Linked DNA regions of Homo sapiens. The protein of the gene in region 2 interacts with the protein of the main gene of each other region in a pairwise test. Each region holds a gene or a part of one and is shown on either strand. Other genes may lie near its edges.

Evidence for each region.
Region 1: the proteins of NAT2 (region 2) and WT1 interact in a two-hybrid assay, tested with the Homo sapiens proteins (one large-scale study listed by BioGRID and IntAct).
Region 3: the proteins of NAT2 (region 2) and HMMR interact in a two-hybrid assay, tested with the Homo sapiens proteins (one large-scale study listed by BioGRID and IntAct).
Region 4: the proteins of NAT2 (region 2) and MBD4 interact in binary tests that used the Homo sapiens proteins (3 or more experiments, as listed by UniProt).
Region 5: the proteins of NAT2 (region 2) and PPM1D interact in a two-hybrid assay, tested with the Homo sapiens proteins (one large-scale study listed by BioGRID and IntAct).

What each region holds. Positions count from the first base shown.
Region 1 is NC_000011.10:32,415,022-32,418,625, reverse strand, and holds part of WT1 (Wilms tumor protein), read left to right. Parts: intron 1-971; coding exon 972-1,049; exon of another isoform or gene 1,050-1,202; intron 1,203-2,085; coding exon 2,086-2,136; intron 2,137-3,604. UniProt on the Homo sapiens protein: Transcription factor that plays an important role in cellular development and cell survival. Recognizes and binds to the DNA sequence 5'-GCG(T/G)GGGCG-3'. Regulates the expression of numerous target genes, including EPO.
Region 2 is NC_000008.11:18,389,885-18,394,183, forward strand, and holds the start of NAT2 (arylamine N-acetyltransferase 2), read left to right. Parts: upstream 1-1,397; 5' UTR 1,398-1,461; intron 1,462-4,299. UniProt on the Homo sapiens protein: Catalyzes the N- or O-acetylation of various arylamine and heterocyclic amine substrates. Participates in the detoxification of a plethora of hydrazine and arylamine drugs, and is able to bioactivate several known carcinogens.
Region 3 is NC_000005.10:163,467,111-163,470,714, forward strand, and holds part of HMMR (hyaluronan mediated motility receptor), read left to right. Parts: intron 1-590; coding exon 591-638; intron 639-2,530; coding exon 2,531-2,719; intron 2,720-3,604. UniProt on the Homo sapiens protein: Receptor for hyaluronic acid (HA). Involved in cell motility. When hyaluronan binds to HMMR, the phosphorylation of a number of proteins, including PTK2/FAK1 occurs.
Region 4 is NC_000003.12:129,430,433-129,433,787, forward strand, and holds the end of MBD4 (methyl-CpG-binding domain protein 4), read right to left. Parts: intron 2,816-3,355; coding exon 2,666-2,815; intron 2,175-2,665; coding exon 2,071-2,174; coding exon of another isoform or gene 2,017-2,070; exon of another isoform or gene 1,744-2,016; intron 1,147-1,743; coding exon 1,069-1,146; 3' UTR 515-1,068; downstream 1-514. UniProt on the Homo sapiens protein: Mismatch-specific DNA N-glycosylase involved in DNA repair. Has thymine glycosylase activity and is specific for G:T mismatches within methylated and unmethylated CpG sites. Can also remove uracil or 5-fluorouracil in G:U mismatches. Has no lyase activity.
Region 5 is NC_000017.11:60,659,108-60,662,711, reverse strand, and holds part of PPM1D (protein phosphatase 1D), read right to left. Parts: intron 3,073-3,604; exon of another isoform or gene 2,784-3,072; intron 1-2,783. UniProt on the Homo sapiens protein: Involved in the negative regulation of p53 expression. Required for the relief of p53-dependent checkpoint mediated cell cycle arrest.

The DNA.
Region 1 (3,604 bases), on a different chromosome or scaffold from region 2:
GCAATCTGATACCACACATCGGATATTAAATGCCTCTTATCTTTTTTCATTTCTGCCATGAAGGTAGAGTGAAATTTTTCTTCTGTAAAGTGTTTAGACCAAGAGGTCCCAGAAAAACTCTTGGTCTCTTGGGTCTCAAATTTCATAATTAACCATTTCAGTTCAGGCATAAATTTATTCCTGATGGAGCTTGGTAATTTAGGAGATTTCTGGCAATTGATTCATGTGCTAATTTTCTAGGAATGAGATAAATACAGAGGGGACAGAACAGCTTTTTGTTGGTTTACATAGCGGTGTAAGACTTCTTTGGAGTCTTAATGTAAATGATAAGCCATTTCCCTCATAGAGTCTTATAGAACTGGGCTCTTTTTTTTTTTTTTTAATTTGACTTGTACCAGGATTATAAAACATATAGAAAATGATTCCTTCCGCTGTGCATAGAGTTTATCATCGTCTTTCTTCTGCTTGTCACATCCTTGCTTTTTAGACCATTTATCACCCATCACTCTGACTTTTCAGACCCTCATAATCCACATGATACTTATCCTTTTGATTAAAACAACTTAATGGCCTTTTCACGAATAATTAATCTGCTGTCTTTACTTTCAGCTCCAGGCTTTTAACTTTAATGTTGAGTTATCCAGCCTGTGTTGCCTTTCAAAGTTTCACTCCCCTTAGCCTTTTCCCCTCAAAGGTTTAATACTTCTTTAGAAACTTCAATAGTTGCTATACAAAGGTTTTAAAAAATGCTTCTGAGTTACTCTCACATCCCTTCTGCTGTGTATGAAGTGTATAACTGTGCAGAGATCAGTGGGATGAAATGAAAATAATTCAGATTTGCATATTCTGTCATTCTGGAAAATGTGGAGGCTTGCACTTTCAAGAAAAGTTAAAACTCCATTGCTTTTGAAGAAACAGTTGTGTATTATTTTGTGGTTATGTGTTTCTAACTCTAGATGTTTTTCTAACAGTGACAATTTATACCAAATGACATCCCAGCTTGAATGCATGACCTGGAATCAGATGAACTTAGGAGCCACCTTAAAGGGGTAAGGTTTTCTCTATTCCATTGCCTTTCCACAGTAACTTATACCTGTTTGAACCATTTCAAAGGTGCTTAGAACTTATGAAGAAAGTACAGTTTTAGAAGAAAGGGCAAAGCTCTCTGTGACATTAGAACGCTTTCCTCCTTCCCCTAGTTGGTGAGTTGTGTTCAGTATTAAATTTTCAAAAACATAAATGTGGGTTGTTTCTATCTGGAACAAGGAATATTGAGGACACTTATTATGGTCTTGTTGAATGTTTTATAATTCTTCAAAGGCTATTCAACCTCATTTAATAATTGTGTTTTACTATGATATCACAGTTGTTAACCATTCCACTATCTTATCAAGAAGTGCTTTGGGTGTGCAAAGTCCGGGATCCAAATTTGTATTTGTGTGATGCTGATCTGGGCAATTCACAGTCAGATACGCCCATACCTGATTGCACCAACAGGGTTTTTCTTTCCATACTTGATAATACAACCATAATAGGGAGAATACAGCCAGGAAACATCAGAAGGAGCTACTCTTTGCACCTAAAAATGAAAAAATAAAAAAAAGAAGGCAGGTGGGACTTGCTTTCACCATTGAAAGAGCTCACTTTTCATTTTCTACCAAGTGTGAAGAGATGGGCAGTAGCATAGAACACTCATGAAGTGCCTGCAGCGTGTCAGGTGTCCTTCCAGGTTACCTCATCTTATCTTCCCAACACTCTCATGAGAGCTAAGTACTGCTTGGTTTACAGATAAGTAAACCAAGCTCAGAGGGTTAAGTTACTTCCCAGGTTCACATCCTACTAAGTGCTAGAGCTGGGATGCCAAGTCCAGATCTGATTCCAAAGCCCAAGCTCTTTGCAGCCTCCGGTGGTGCCTTCCACCCCACCATTGGCCCCAGTGGGACTGGGGACTTAGTTCAGCACTCTTGATAGCTAGCTTGATGTCTCTGTGTATTGAGGGGCTTTTCACTGGATTCTGGGATCTGGGGGGCTTGCCAGATCCATGCATGCTCCATTCCCCACTCCCCACCTCTTCTTCTTTTCTAGAGTTGCTGCTGGGAGCTCCAGCTCAGTGAAATGGACAGAAGGGCAGAGCAAGTGAGTGGACAATGCGGAGATGGCAAAGCAAATGGCGTAGGCCTTGCTGACTGGCACCTGGGGCAATGCAGGAGTTAGGACTGACGTGGGTAATCAGGGTAGCATTTGGTGGATGGGAAGAATCTCTCTCCCCCGCCCCCACCTCTTCTTATTCATCATACACATGCTGGGGACAAAATGGAGGGAGTAGCATTTCTCATCAACATGCCCCTGGAAAACAATGTAAAAAATTATGCAGCATCCTGTTCATTTCTTTGTGAATACTTCACAAAATACTAAATACTAAATTTGTGGCATTACAACCATAATGCCACATGTTCCTGTTAGATCAGTCAAAGCTTTCAGTCTTAACTTGCTTCTTCTTTATTTACCTTTAAATCTCTCAGGGAGAACTTACCCTAAGTCTGAGGCCAGGCTTTGAAAAGACTTGTTTTTTGTTGTTTTTCAAAGTTTGTTTTTATTCCCAAACATTCGCACCTTCCCCAGCCCTGTACCCTGCACCTTGGGGAATTTCTGTAGCTGTTTCTTTTTCTTCTCTCTGCTTTAACTCCACAACCAGCCGCCCTCTTTTCTTCTTTATTGTGTGGGCCCAGTCCTGTTATTTGGTTCATCCTTCAGTAATCAACAGAGTTGTATTTCATCTTCCAAGACTTACTGTTAGGTTCTTCACCTCACCCCCGCCCCCAAATTTTTCAGCAGTTTTATCCAGATCTCCTCTTCCTCTCTCTGGACCACAAAGAAAAGGCTTTCTGTTGTTTTAAATTATTTCTCTCCTGTCTTCCATCTGGGGGACTGCTGACAGTTTTAGCATTCTGTCTTTCTACCCATTCTCTTTTCTTTTTGAGACGGAGTTTAGCTCTTGTCGCCCAGGCTGGAGTGCAATGGTGCCATCTCGCTCACCGCAACCTCCACCTCCCGGGTTCAAGCGATTCTCCTGCCTCAGCCTCCCCAGTAGCTGGGATTACAGGCATGTGCCACCACGCCCGGCTAATTTTGTATTTTTAGTAGAGATGGGGTTTCTCCATGTTGGTCAGTCTGGTGTCAAACTCCCGACCTCAGGTGATCCGCCCACCTTGATCTCCCGAAGTGCTGGGATTACAGGCGTGAGCCACCGTGCCTGGCCTTTCTACCTGTTCTTAACTCGTCTTAAGTTCCTTGGCTTCTTGGTCCCACCCTTTCTTTCTGGCTCCCTTCCTTTTCTCCTTTCTCCTCTCCTCAGAACTTGATAACCTTCCCCAAGCTAAATAGCAAGGATAGACAGAACATGATTGTGAAGTGAGCAGTACATTTCAGTTTCAAAAACTTCTTCATGCTGTAATACAGGGGCTTGTTTGTTCAGTTACAAAAATTACAGATAAGGAATTTGGCATGTATTTGCAGCTGGATATTTCCATGGTTAAGATAATTTCGATACTTTTTAAGGTCTTTAGACATGTACTGTTAGTCACTTGCTGAGGAGGCAGAAGCT
Region 2 (4,299 bases):
CCAGTGGCTTATTTTGATTTAGGAGATGATTTAAGGAATCACCAGTGCGGGAGTATAACAGTGAACCCAAGACACCTTGAGATCAATAAAAAGGTGCATTGTTGGCAGGCTGCCTGCAAAGAAAGGGAGCATAATCCCAGTAGACAACACCAGGAGGCAGTTTTGTACATGCCTAAGAGTAATCCCACCTTAGCATGTAGAACACAAGGATATTTAGTCTCCAGTTCCCATCATGTGGGCTGAGTGGTGGTCCCAGGTGCTTTAATTTGTAGTCCATCTGCCCAAGCACAGGCCAAAAGAAAGCCTTCCCACAGAGTCCCGAGTTCATGTGGCAGCATGCCAGAGGTATGTACTGGAACAGTAGGTGCTAAAGGCAACAATTACATCATGAAAACTGCACATCTCACTCATATGTGGAATCTAAAAGTAATTTAGCTCATAGAAGTTAAGAGTAGAATAGTTAGAGTAGTAGAAAGTTAAGAGTTGTTACTGGAGAGAAAAGAGGGTATGGAAGCTAGAAAAAAAGCTAGAAGGAAGGATTTTGAATGTTCTCATGACAAAGAGATGATAAATGTTTGAGGTGACAGACATGCTAATTACCATGATTTGATCTTTACACAATGTCTGCATGTATCAGAACATCACACACTACCAAATAAATATATACAATTGTTATGTGTCAAAAAACATTATATACAATGTTTATATTTTATATTAATATTAATGTAAATAAAAATTTACACAAATCTTTTCATTAAATATGGTGTGGATAATTATATTATCTGATGATACCCATGCCACAGGCTAGGAGAAATAAAAATTTACATTAATGTTAATGTCAAAAAAGCAGAAACAAAGCCATATGATACATGTGACACTTATACCACATGCATAGAGTTATTTCAGACACATTGTGTGTTACCTTTGGGTAGAGAAGTGAATGAGAGTGAGGATGAGAGATGAAAAGAGGCAGAAGAAAAAGAGAGGCCTTATAGGAAGTGATGAAAGTGTGCCATAAACTGAGAGTATGACTAAAACCTTTCATCTTCCTCTTCTGCCGCTTCTAAGTTATTGGTTCTGCTGTTCCTTGACCTGTTTCAAGCTCTCACCTTCTATATCACACATGGGAAGTCTGGCATCAGACTTCCAGAGAGCAAGAACTAGGTGAAATACAAGGGCACAGCTCTCCTAGCCTGTGGCATGGGTATCATCAGATAATATAATTATCCACACCATTTTTAACAAAAAGATTTGCGTAAGAGATTCACAGAGGCAACCTGAGGCCCTGCAACTACATTTCCCAGAGATCCCTGAGGTGATCCTAACTAGACTCTGGTGTCAGGGTGATACGGAATTCCAGTGAGATCACTTCCCTTGCAGACTTTGGAAGGGAGAGCACTTTATTACAGACCTTGGAAGCAAGAGGATTGCATTCAGCCTAGTTCCTGGTTGCTGGCCAAAGTAAGTAGAACTTTGTAAGTAATTTGCAGTGTACTTTGAAAGTGGGGTATAAATTAAAAATAAAATCAAGTCCCCCTACTGACTGAATGGATCCCCTCTTGTCCTAGGCGACCCCAGAGAAACCTGGAAAACTAAATTCCAGGCCATAATGGAAAGGGAGGTCAGACACGCCTCATTATACACACTCCCTTTTGGAGTTCAGGCACAACTGACCAGCATTAACATTGAAACAGTGATCATAAGACTGTCAAAATGGACTGTTTGTGGGAATAAGATACCAAATTCCAATCTGACTCTGGTTTAGCATCACATGACAATAGCAGACCCTGAAGGAAATCAATATATTTAATCCCCAAAATATATTTCTTTGACACATATTGAAATGGTCTTGCAAAACCATCTTTTATGGGGAAATTTGCTGGTTTCTGGCTCTGCTCTGATTGAGGAGAGAATAAATGAGAGTCTGACACCTTAAAAATCTGAAAAGAGATATTTACCATCTGTTTTCTCTAAGGCTGCTAGCTGGAGGTTTCATCTACATGACATAAACCATGGTTCCCATAAGCCCTTTTAACTCAAGCATTTAATTGTACTGACCGCAAGTCTTTAGACAAAACTTAACTCTTCAACAAATTGCCAATCACAAAATCTTTGAATCCACCTTTGTCCTGTAAGCTCTCCTACTTCAATATGTCTGATTTTCAGGCAGAGCCAATGTATACCTTATGTGGGGGCCATAGGCTGTTGGCCCCCTAAAGCTTCACTAAAAGTCACTGTCATGTGACAGGTTGATTAATAGGGGAAAGGGAGTACAAATTTATTTAATGTATATACATGGTCTATTAGCCAGGACCCTTTAGAGGGCCAGAACTAATAGGATAGATGTATACATAAAGGGGAGTTTATTAAGGAGTAGTGAGTCACATGATCACAAGGTGACGTCCCACAGTAGGCCGTCTGCAAGCTGAGGAGCAAGGAAGCCAGTCCGAGTCCCAAAACCTCAAAAGTAGGGAAGCCGACAGTGCAGCCTTCAGTCTGTGGTCAAAGGTCCAGGAGTCCAAAGGCTGAAGAACTTGGAGTTTGATGTTTGAGGGCAGGAAGCATCCAGCACAGGAGAAAGATGTAGGCTGGGAGACTAAGCCAGTCTAGTCTTTCCACATTCTTCTGCCTACTTTCATTCTGGCTGTGCTGGCAGCTGATTAGATGGTGCCCACCCGGATTGAGGGTGGGCCTCCCTTTCTCAGTCCACTGATTCAAATGTTAATTTCCTTTGGCAACACCCTCACAGACACACCCAGGAACAATACTTTGAATCCTTCAATCCAATCAAGTTGACACTCAATATTAACCACCACACTTGGGAAACTTGAGAATGAAGACCCAACTTCCCAGTAAGTTACAGAAACTCATGTATTATTCCGAGGCCACAGTAAAGAGTGGAGACTCAAAGCATGGCCAGAAACAGGTAAATTAGTTTTAGTGGCAACACAGGTTAAGAGAGAGAGGAAGGAAGAAGCTCGGCTAGCAAAGGTGGCCTTGTTATGTAGACGAACCTTTTCTCAGAAGCAAAAGATGGTAAATGTTTCTATCCAGATCTTTAAAGGTGTCAGACTCTCAATCGCTCTGGATCCTGGGAAAGGCTTAGAAACAGGAGAGGGTATGGCTGCATTAATGGACATTGTCCACAGACGCAAATTTTCCTCAGTTAAGACAGTTTTGCAATGCCACTTCTGCTTGTTGGCCAGTGGAAACCATTTTTAAATATGTCAAAGAAATATATTTGAGGGTAAAATATTTTGATTTTCTTCAGTCCCCACTTTGAAATTTAAAACAAGTTTCACATACTAAAAGCCAAGGTAATAGCTTTGGGGAGATTTAAGTTAGAGGTGTTTAGATAGAGACAGTCATAGCAGTGGAAAAACACATTTGGGATAAATATAAATGAGCAAATTTAAATATATCATTCCATATTTTCTTTAGGCAGTCCCTTGGTTTTGAGGTGAGATCAGTTCAGTTAAATATCTACGTCCCATTCCAGGAGGTGGGACTGCAAATGGTTTAGGCCTTTAGACGTAATGTAGGCAATCAGATTTCTAGTAGGAGGCATTTCTGTAGAAACAGAAAAAAATAAATAAATAAATGTTACTATCTGGAGTAGTCTATATATCTAGAAAAGCTAGTCTATAGCTTTTTCTCTGAGGCGTCTTCATATTGCAGTGGCAATGTCCCAGATTTCCCTGGAAGTTCAAACCAGGTGTTCCACTGAACTTTCTGAGAAGGCCTCACATCAGCAGATATGCATGAAGGTTGTTTATAAGTTACTGTTATTTTCTCCTGATACCTTCAGTTTGCAAGACTTTAAGAAAACCCCAGTTTTAATTTCTAGTGAATTCAAGTAAGAAAAATGGGAGAAAACGTTGAAAATGTTACTTTGCAGACTTGTAGCCAGAAAAAAATTCAGGATTTGGTCTAACTTGTAAAAAATAATAAAAACTGAAAAAACAATGGGCAAGGCTAGAAGATACTAACAGATACACTATAGTTTTTGAAACATAGTATTTCTGCTTCCAGTTCTTCAATTTTATGAAAGACATAGTTTCATGCACATCCGTGTGAAGAGACCACCAAACAGACTCTGTGTGAGCAACATGGCTGTTTATTTCACCTGGGTGCAGGCGGGCTGAGTCCTAAAAGAGAGTCAGTGAAGGGAGATAAGGGTGGGGCCATTTTATAGGATTTGGATAGATAAAAGAAAAGTACAGTCAAAGGGGGGTTGTTCTCTGGCAGGCAGAGTGGGGGTCACAAGGTGCTCAGTAGGGGAGCTATTGAGCCAGGATG
Region 3 (3,604 bases), on a different chromosome or scaffold from region 2:
TTTCATTCAAGATGTTGATGCCTTTCTTCCATTTTTAGATGGAAAAGATATTCTTTTTCTAGCCATTGTGTCAGAAAGTCTGTTGGATATAAAAAGATATAGTGTGAAAATTATATGTCTTATTTAGAATAAAGCCAATGAGAAAATTAGAATCAGAGCTTATGCTGTTTCAGTTTTTATTTCTTTGCATCTGTATATTTTCCTCTTCGGGTATCAAAGTTTAAGTCGATTTCTCTTTGTAAGATTCTTTCTGAGATAGCATAATTAAATATTCAAGATGTGTTGCTATTTAACATTAGAGGGAGGCAGTCAGTAGCTTTATTCATAAAGTTCCACCTGTTCTTTTCACTGGGCTGATTAGGAAAATCCTGATTTATTGGGTTGAAAATTTCTAAACCTAAAATGTCTTGAGATTTTTAGAATATTTTATTTATCAGATGAGTGGCCTACACAATGTTTAACAGTGTAATGTTTAAAATAGAAACTAACTGATTGGATCCCTTCATCTTTTCTGATAACTGAAAAACAAATTTGGCTGTCATATCTGTGACATCTAAATTTGCTTATAAGTTTTTTTGGCTTTTAAACAGAAGGAATCTCAAAAGAATGATAAAGATTTGAAGATATTAGAGAAAGAGGTAAGCAGTGCTTTAAACTTAGTGAAAAGTACACATGATAGAAAGAGAGTTACACAGATTTAAGAGATAAGGATTCTGTTGCAGTGTGAGGAGTCCTGCAGTGAGGCAAACATGCCATCCAGAACAGTGCCTACAGGAAAACAGTTCTTACAGTATTTCACAGATCTATCCGGGCTATGTTAATGTGGTATGCTGGCAACGCCGAGATTAAAGATAGCCCACTTAATGAAAAACTGATAACTGAAAAATCATTATGTCAGTTGATTACAATTATATATGTGGATCAAATATTTATATCTATCCATCGTTCACAGTCTTCCTGTATGCTAACTTATGTTAACACAACATAGCTAGAGGATTTCTTAGTGAGCATGCAATCCTAGCTGGTTAGACTGTGATGAAGTTAGGCTAACTCGATGCATTGCTCTGCACAATAGGTATAGGCCTTCCTCATGGGTGAAATAACATAGAGCTGTGCTGTTTGATATGGTAGCTACTCACCACATGTGATGATCTAAATTAAATAAGAACTCAATTCCTCAGTTGCAATAATCACATTTCAAGTGCTCAGTAGCCACATGTGATTGGCAGCTACCATACTGGACAGGGCATTTCCACCATGACAGAAATTTCTATTGAACAGTACTAACCTAAAGAACCCATTTACTTTCCTAGCAATGCTAAGCAGCTCACTGTGAACTTTGCTTCTCTGCAGTCTTTTTTTTCTGTTTCCATTGCTGACCAACTCTTTTCCTCATGGATATATTCTTTCAATATATTAAAATCTTTCATTTGATTACAGTCGAATGTTGGCTTTCAACCAAGAGTATGTCAGAGTAACTGTAAATGTCTGCTCAGTTGCTCTGATTCTTTTTTATGTATTCTAATAATGTTAGCTATCATTTTACTGAGGGTACATGTAGGGGTTGATACTTACAGGAATAATCACTGAGTCTCAGTGAGATAGCTGGTAAGTGAGTGGTAGAGCCAGGATTAGAACTAATAATTTACACCAGTGACTTCATTGGGTATAGAATTTTAGGGTGGCAGGTTCCCCCCCATTATATTAAAAATATCATTTCATTGTCTTTTGGCTTCCACATTTTCTGTTGACAAATATTGGTTTGGGTTTTTTTTTGTTTTTTGTTTTTTTAATCTGGTAATAGCAGCAAGAATGATGGCTTGCCAATGCCTAGTACATTCTCCTCAGAAGCCCAGCTCTGCCTTCTTGAAATAAAAAACATTTAGCATTTTAAGCTAATTTGAATTTGTGTAATTGAAGCTAGAGAAAATAACTATTATAGGTGGAAATACCTTAAAAGTGAATAAATAGCGGCCGGGTGTGGTGGCTTACACCTGTAATCCTAGCACTTTGGGAGGCTGAGGCGGGTGGATCACGAGGTCAGGAGATCGAGACCATCCTGGCTAATATGGTGAAACCCCGTCTCTATTAAAAATACAAAAAATTAGCCGGGTGTGGTGGCCCGTGCTGGTAGTCCCAGCTATTCGGGAGGCTGAGGCAGGAGAATCGCTTGAACCCAGGAGGCGGAGCTTGCAGTGAGCCGAGATCGTGCCACTGCACTCCAGCCTGGGCAACAGAGCACAGAGCAAGACTCCATCTCAAAAAAAAAAAAAAAAAAGTGAATAGATAGCTTAATTGTACTTGGAACTTATGGCAACTAAAGTTCTTATGTTCTTAAAATGCATTAAGACTTTTAAGATGTATCATAGGTAAATATGATTATTCAAATAGCTAGTAACATTAGAATATCTACAAGCATAATGTCAAAATCAGAGATTTTTCCAGAAACTTTAGGGGTGATTATTGGTAGCATCTCCTTATGTTGGCATTCTATCAGTGAATCATTTATTATCACCTTGTTTTTGTCCAGATTCGTGTTCTTCTACAGGAACGTGGTGCCCAGGACAGGCGGATCCAGGATCTGGAAACTGAGTTGGAAAAGATGGAAGCAAGGCTAAATGCTGCACTAAGGGAAAAAACATCTCTCTCTGCAAATAATGCTACACTGGAAAAACAACTTATTGAATTGACCAGGACTAATGAACTACTAAAATCTAAGGTATCTGAGCCTCATGATAATATTTACAATTGAATAAATATAAACACGTTTTTTAGGGCCGGGCACGGTGGCTCACGCCTGTGTTCCCAGCATTTTGGGAGGCCAAGGCAGGCGGATCACCTGAGGTCGGGAGTTCGAGACCAGCCTGACCAACATGGAGAAACCCTGTCTCTACTAAAAATACAAAAATTAGCTAGGCCTATTGGCGGGCGCCTGTAATCTCAGCTACTCGGGAGGCTGAGGCAGAAGAATCACTTGAACCCAGGAGGTGGAGGTTGCAGTGAGCTGACATGGCGCCATTGCACTTCAGCCTAGGCAAGAGAGTGCGACTCCATCTCAAAAAACAAAACAAAACAAAACAACATACACCAGGCGATTCAGATTCATTTTGTTAAGCAAACATGTTTCAAGAAATCCTTTCTCAGGGACTTGCTTTAGAGTCTTGCAATGGACTTTCCAGCATATAGAGGTAAGTGACCACCCAAACAACCTTTCAAAAATGAACCAACAGGCCAGCCACAGTGGCTCACACCTGTAATTCCAGCGCTTTGGGAAGCTGAGACGGATGGATCACTTGAGGTCAGGATTTTGAGACTAGCCTAGCCTAACATGGCGAAACCCCATCTTTACTAAAAATACAAAAATTAGTCAGGTATGGTGGCGTACACCCGTAATTCCAGCTACTCAGGAGGCTGAGGCATGAGAATAGCTTGAACTCGGGAGGCTGAGGCATGAGAATAGCTTGAACTCGGGAGGTGGAAGTTGCAGTGAGCAACACGGCACTCCAGCCTGGGTGACAGAGTGAGACTCTGTCTTACAAAAATAAAATAAAAATAAACCAGCAAGTCACATTAAGGAAAAGAGGGATAAGAACAGTAGACTGGT
Region 4 (3,355 bases), on a different chromosome or scaffold from region 2:
ACTTGTAATAAAAATGGCATTAAGACTTATTTTTTTTAAGACAGGGTCTTGCTGTGTCATCCAGGCTGAAGTGCAGTGGTGTGATCATAGCTCACTGCAGCCTCAATCTCCTGGGCTCAAGGGATTCTCCCACCTCAGCCTTCTGAGTAGCTGGGACCACAAGTGTATGTCACCATGCCCAATTAATTTTTAAAATTTTTTGTAGAGACGGGGTCTCATTATGTTGCCCAGTCTGGTTTTGAACTCCTGGGCTCAAGCAATCCTCCTGCCTCAGCCTCCCAAAGTGCTAGGATTACAGGTGTAAGCCACTGTGCCTGGCCAAATGGTATAAACTCCAAATGGAAGATGAGAAATGAGTTTTCACAAAGGGACCAAGGTAAAAGAGTGAGTGAGCTGAAATGGAGCAGCAGGCCCATATTCACATTAGGTTATCAAATGGATACTGGGGTGGAATCTACAATTCCTAAGAGCTAGTGTGGAGCTGTCAACAATACACAATGCCAGAGGAATCTTATTTGTCTTTGGGGTCAGCTTTTATTTTTATTTTTTAAATATATATTTTTTGAGACAGGGTCTCTCTCTGTCATCCAGACTGGAGTGCAGTGGCATGATCATGGCTCACTGAAGCCTTGACCTCCTGGGCCCTCATGAGCTCAAATGATCCTCCTGCCTCAGCCTTCCGAGATTACAGGCATGCACCACCACGCCTAGCCGATAAAAATATTTAGTGGGCCCCTAGCTTTAGCAAGGCTGATAGAAATTTGCTTTGTATTATTGATAGTTTAGAACTATTTTTCATCTTCTGATTATATTTCATCATTGGAAAAGCCGTATTTTTTTTGGATTGTTGTCAAATAATAATTTATTTTAAAAAAATCTCAAAACATGTTCAAACACATTCAGTAGCAAAGATCCACCATTGGCACACACATTAAGAAAGCACACACACTAGGCTTCTAGTTGGGCTAATTAAAATCTCTATGGCTGGAAAGGTGGTTGGTTGTACTTAATTAAGCTTTTTTGAAGTGCAAAGCTATGCATAACAGATGAGCTTGAAAGCTGCAGAGTTTAAGATAGACTTAATTTTTCATGATTTTCCCAAAGCCAGTCATGATATTTATTTAATTTGTGGTCTTCAGGGTGCACCTGGAAGAAACATAAGATACAGAGGCAGAGACCTTAATGTAACTTAGTCAGAAATACATTTTTTAAAATTGGCTTTTTAAATGTTTGCTGGGGGACAGTACATTACGATACCATACCTAAAAGTTATAACCTTTAACCTCCTGGGATTCATGAATATTTTAAGTTATACCTTATATTAAGGTAATCTCACACAATTTACAAGGTACTGTCCAAATTACTACTCAACCATGACTTAGAATGTGGGGTGGCGATAACATGAGTCAAGTATTAATACCTCACTTTCCAGAAGGAGGTTCTAGACCGAGAGGTTAAATGGATTCTCAGGTCACAATGGATTGCTCTGATGAAGCTGGGATAGGACCATGGTCCTTCAGTTCAGGCTTGGCCAGACCTACTGGCTGAATGCATGAGGGTGAGTCTCAAGCTGAGTGGGCAGCATACCAGGCCACCCACCAGCTGCCAGGATGACCACCAGCATGCCACAGGCTGGGCATATTCAACAGGGCTGAAGCAGGACCCAGTCACCACAAACGTAGTCTGAGACCACTAAGAGAAACCCAATATGCATACATTGCAGGCCCAAACCTTCCTGCTTTCCTGTAGTGGTGTACTTTTGACAGGAGGAAAACCACGTCAGGCTTAGAGATAGCACACAAATAGGGAATGACAGGAACAGGGCCAGAGGTGACAAACCACTGGAGATGAGTCAGAGGCCACGCCGCTGGACTGGTCTTTGTGGACTTGGGAGCGCCTACTGATCAAAAACCCCAAAACCCACATGCCACCCGCTTCCCCGCAGCCAGGAACACAATTGTTTGTGACTGTAATAGCATTTGTATCCAATAAATAGTCTTAACCATAATGGTGGACTTATTTTGCCTCAGAGACCAAATGTGCTGAATTATGGATGGGAGTGAGCCTCACCTGCTTCCACTCATTGACACAAAAAATTCGGTAAGAGTCGTTGCCATATTTACCAATCCCATGAAGCTCAATTGGATACTTCCACTGCTTTGTCAGGTATTCATCTGAAGAATACAACATCCCACATTATCAGGTCAGCTTCTAAAGACACCCTCCCAAAATGTGTGGTGATGGGGCAGGATGGAGAGAACAGCAGAAAGGGACAGGAAAGGCTCTTTCCCAGCAACCCCAGTTGTGATTACTCTTCCTTCTGAATTCCTGCAGCACCCATATCATTTGCCAATTCCTAACCACTCTTTTGTGCTGTGCTAACAAGACAGAAGTCATGTCCTTGAGGTCAAGAACTGGGCTTTCTGCTTCACTGACTTCTTCCCCTAATTCTGCCCACATGCCTGACCCAGTGCTGGGCAAAGATTTATTGTTTAGGTCAGTGGGAGACTGTGGTTTGGGGAAAGTGGACTTTTTTAAATGCCTTGGGTGCTTGAGCTGAAAAACCTCCATTAATATAGTATCTGAGAACATTAAAGTTTAAGGTGTGGCTCTCTTAAATAAGCACAATGTATTATGTTTTTCCTTTGGGTGTATAGGAAAATACCTGAGAACTTGACAATGGTTTTTGCCCGAAGATCGTAGAGACCAAGAGGTTTAAGAAGTTCTGACACATCTCTCCAGTCTGCGGTTCTTGCTACCTCAGCTGAAGGATACTTCTCCAGAAACTTCCAAAGCACAGGTATTGCCATTTTGCCTGGGAAGTAAAAGTAACTGAATGATTACAAGACTCCAGGTGGGCTGATTTCATGTTCAAGTAGTTTCTCATAGAAATCTCATCCAGAGGGTTTTTTTTTTTAAAGAAAACAAAAAACAAAAAAACACTGGTGAGAAGCCATTATCTGAACCAGCAACCACTTTCAGAATCAAATGCCAAAACTGCTAATATATTGGGCTAATAGTCCAAATTATGCTGAAAACTGGCCTTGCATGATTAGCTTTTAAATGATCAGATCAGCAGATAATGAGAGTAGAAGCATATAGAACACAAGGTACATTCAGTGAAAAAGATACTTTTAAACACACATGAAAGAGGGTGGAGAAACGTTAACTGATTTTCACTGATGATCAAAAAGAATTTGGAAGTATAAAATAAATAAAATCTACCTCTTTATTCTAAAAGGTCTGTTGGATGTCATCCAGTCTCATTTCCTCATAGGTGAAGAGTTTAAGGGTGAAGGGGGAATGCCCTATCCCAGGTGACACACTCAAAATGGACTTTGAACCCAGGCCTCAA
Region 5 (3,604 bases), on a different chromosome or scaffold from region 2:
TCACAAGCATTTTCTATCCATTGGCAGGTAAACAAAAATAAGATACATTAAGGAACAAGATTTCAAAACAAACCCTCAAAATTAACCATAGGCACACATTCACTCTTCCACTATTCTGTACTCAAACATGGAGAAGATCAAAAGTATCGCATTCTCTGTGTGCATTTTAATTTACTTTTGGTAATAACATAATGCTGATGAAATCGCTCTATTTTTCATAAAAGTCATATTTTTCCATAAGAACCATCAAAAAATTGCTTTAAGATGCCATTAAGTGCTTACTACAGCAGCACATATACTAAAATTGGAATGATACAAAGAAGATTAGCATGGCCCCTGTGCAAAGATGACACAAATTCATGAAGCGTTCCCTATTTCAAAAAAGAAAAAAAAGCTTTTAAAGATCTCAATTTTTGGCCGGGCACACTGGCTAACCCCTGTAATCCCAGCACTTTGGGAGGTCGAGGCGGGCAGATCATTTGAGGTCAGGAGTTCAAAACCAGCCTGGCCAACATGGTGAAACTGCGTCTCTACTAAAAATACAAAAATTAGCCAGGCATGGTGGTGTGCACCTGTAATCCCAGCTACTCTGGAGGCTGAGACAGGAGAACTGCTTGAGCCCAGGAGGTGGAGGCTGCAGAGAGCAGAGATCGCACCACTGCACTCCAGCCTGGGTGACGGAGTGAGACTCCGTCTCACAATAAATAAATAAATATTAAAATTAAAAATAAAAATCTGAATTTTCTAGTAATGAAAACCAGTGTAACCACTGGAGGGGATGGTAGCATCTCAGTAGGATAAGCAACAAATTTGTAGTTTTTTGGTTTATCCTATCTCCTAAATTCTAATTTCTGAGTATGTAGTGTGGAAAGCATTACAACATTAAAGCACATCATTAAAGCAAAGTACAACATTAAAGCAACTATGTCATAATGGTCATAATGGAAACTCAGAAGAATGCTGCTTTGCACCCATCCTGCAAACACTAGATACTGCTCTGTGATTTGAGAAAAGTAGTACACATGGGACCATTCTGAGAATGGTTAGGGAAATTCCCAATTGATGAAAACAAATGAGAATTATCCAAGGCACTTTATTGTTTTTAAAAATGCTGTTTTCACAACGCTTCATGTCAATCTAGATATGCACCACTACTTTGAGTGTAGTGCTCTAAATCTACATATACTCAGAATAGCCGCTCACCTCCAGATAAGAACATTCTTACTATCAAACCCAGCTCTTCCAAAGTAATAACATTTCATAAAATCATTGTCTTAATACTTTATCAAGGTCCAGAGTTAAAGCATAAATACTCTCTCCCCCAAACATGTAAAATTTTCCTCAAGTGGACTCTCAATCAAATGTATCAAAATATTAATAGATTCTGAAAAGCCCAAGCAGAGCAGCAAATGAAGACGTATTTATCTGATCTTTCTCCGAAATAAAATCTCCTATAAATAAACACCTTTCCTTTTTTTTTTTTTTTTTTTTTGAGATGGAGTTTCGCTCTTGTTGCCCAGGCTGGAGTGCAATGGCACAATCTTGGTTCACCACAACCTCTGCCTCCCAGGTTCAAGGGATTCTCCTGCCTCAGCCTCCTGAGTAGCTAGGACTACAGGCATGCGCCACCATGCCCAGCTAATTTTTTTTTTGTATTTTTAGTAGAGACAGGGTTTCTCCATGTTGGTCAGGCTGGTCTCGATCTCCTGACCTCAGGTGATCTGTCCGCCTCGGCCTCTCAAAGTGCTGTGATAACAGGCGTGAGCCACTGCGCCCAGCCTGAATATACAACTTTCTTAGAAGTGCTATATAAAAGTATACTTATCATAGGAATGTTTCCTTTAATTTGTCTAGAGTTAAAAACAAAGGGAAATAAGGGAGGCAGGGAGGTTCAAAAAATAAAATGAAAGGGAAATTGAAGGCATCCAGAAGCTTCCTTTTTTCTTTTTTTGAGGCCGAGTCTTGCTCTGTCACCCAGGCTGGAGTGCAGTGGCGCGATCTCTGTTCACTGCAACCTCTGCCTCCCGGGTTCAAGCGATTCTCCCACCTCACCCTCCCGAGTAGCTGGGGTTAGAGGTGCTCACCACCATGCCCAGCTAATTTTTGTATTTTCAGTAGAGATGGGGTTTCACCATGTTGGCCAGGCTGGTCTCAAATTCCTGACCTTAAGTGACCCACCACACCCGGCCCAGAAACTCGTTTCTAAAATGATCTCGATCTAATCATAGATATGAATATGCTTTACTGAAAAACACATATATATATAGACTTTAGGACCAATGGACACTGAAGAAAAGGACAAAGAATTTCTAGTTACTAATCTGGTACTGCCCCAAATACATCACTTCTCTGTTTTTTTGTTTTTGTTTCTTTTTGAGACAGAGTTTCATTCTTGTTGCCCAGGCTGGAGTGCAATGGCACAGTCTTGGCTCAATGCAACCTCCGCCTCCTGGGTTCAAGCGATTCTCCTGCCTCAGCCTCCCAAGTAGCTGGGATCACAGGCACCCACCACCACACCCAGCTAACTTTTGTATTCTTAGTAAAGACAGGATTTCACCATGTTGGCCAGGCTGGTCTCAAACTCCTGACCTCGGGTGATCAGCCTGCCTCGGCCTCCCAAAGTGCTGGGATTACAGGCACATGTCACCACACCCAGCTAATTTTTGTATTTTTAGTAGAAACAGGGTTTCACCATATTGGCCTCGAACTCCTGACCTTGTGATCCACCCGCCTCGGCCTCCCAAAGTGCTGGGATTACAGGCGTGAGCCACCACACCCAGCCTAAATGCACAGAATATTATTCTGACACCACAGGTGTGCTGGCTTCCCTTCCCCTACTTTCTTCTTGAACATTTCTGAAGGGAATTCTCTTTTTATTGGCATTCTGTGGGAATACATTGTATCTGTTAGCACAGGCAACTGTTTAGACTTCTTAGATGTACCCCAGGTTAATTTGTATTGCTAAGGCCTGCATGTTCGTAAAACAGTTATGTGATATTGAGGTTACCCCTAAAAATACATACTTTAAAAAAGTTCACTGCTTCAGAGATCAACTTTCTCCTCCCATCTACCCTGTAATCCAATATTAAACAATTAATTACAAACTGTGCCTAAAATGCAACTAAAACTAAGTTTTAATTTTCTGAAACTCTTTGCTCTCTTCCCCATTCCGTTCTTAAAGATCTTAGCTTGTAAAACATAGCTAAATTTAGTTTTGCCCTAAACAAAGGACAGAGAAAGAAATGTGTGTCATAGTAATCTATCTTACTTAAACAAAGGCTTTTCCACTATCTCCATCCCAAAACAAAGACTAATTTATGTGAGAATTCAAATGGAAGCTGACATGTTTACAGACAAATCTAGTCTCAAATGCCTTGTCTAAATGTGATTAAGTCTCTGACTGTTCAACATTAACCACATTATAATTAAATTTATCTCTATGTTACTAAACATGAGACAACTTTAATAATGATGTAAATTAAATATAGTCAGGAGTACTCACCTTTATGTCAATTAAGGTAAATAAAACAAACCAAAAACAATTTCTTGGGCAGAAATCTGTCTTTTGTTAGTTGTTAGATCAGAGCCAACAATACTAATTATT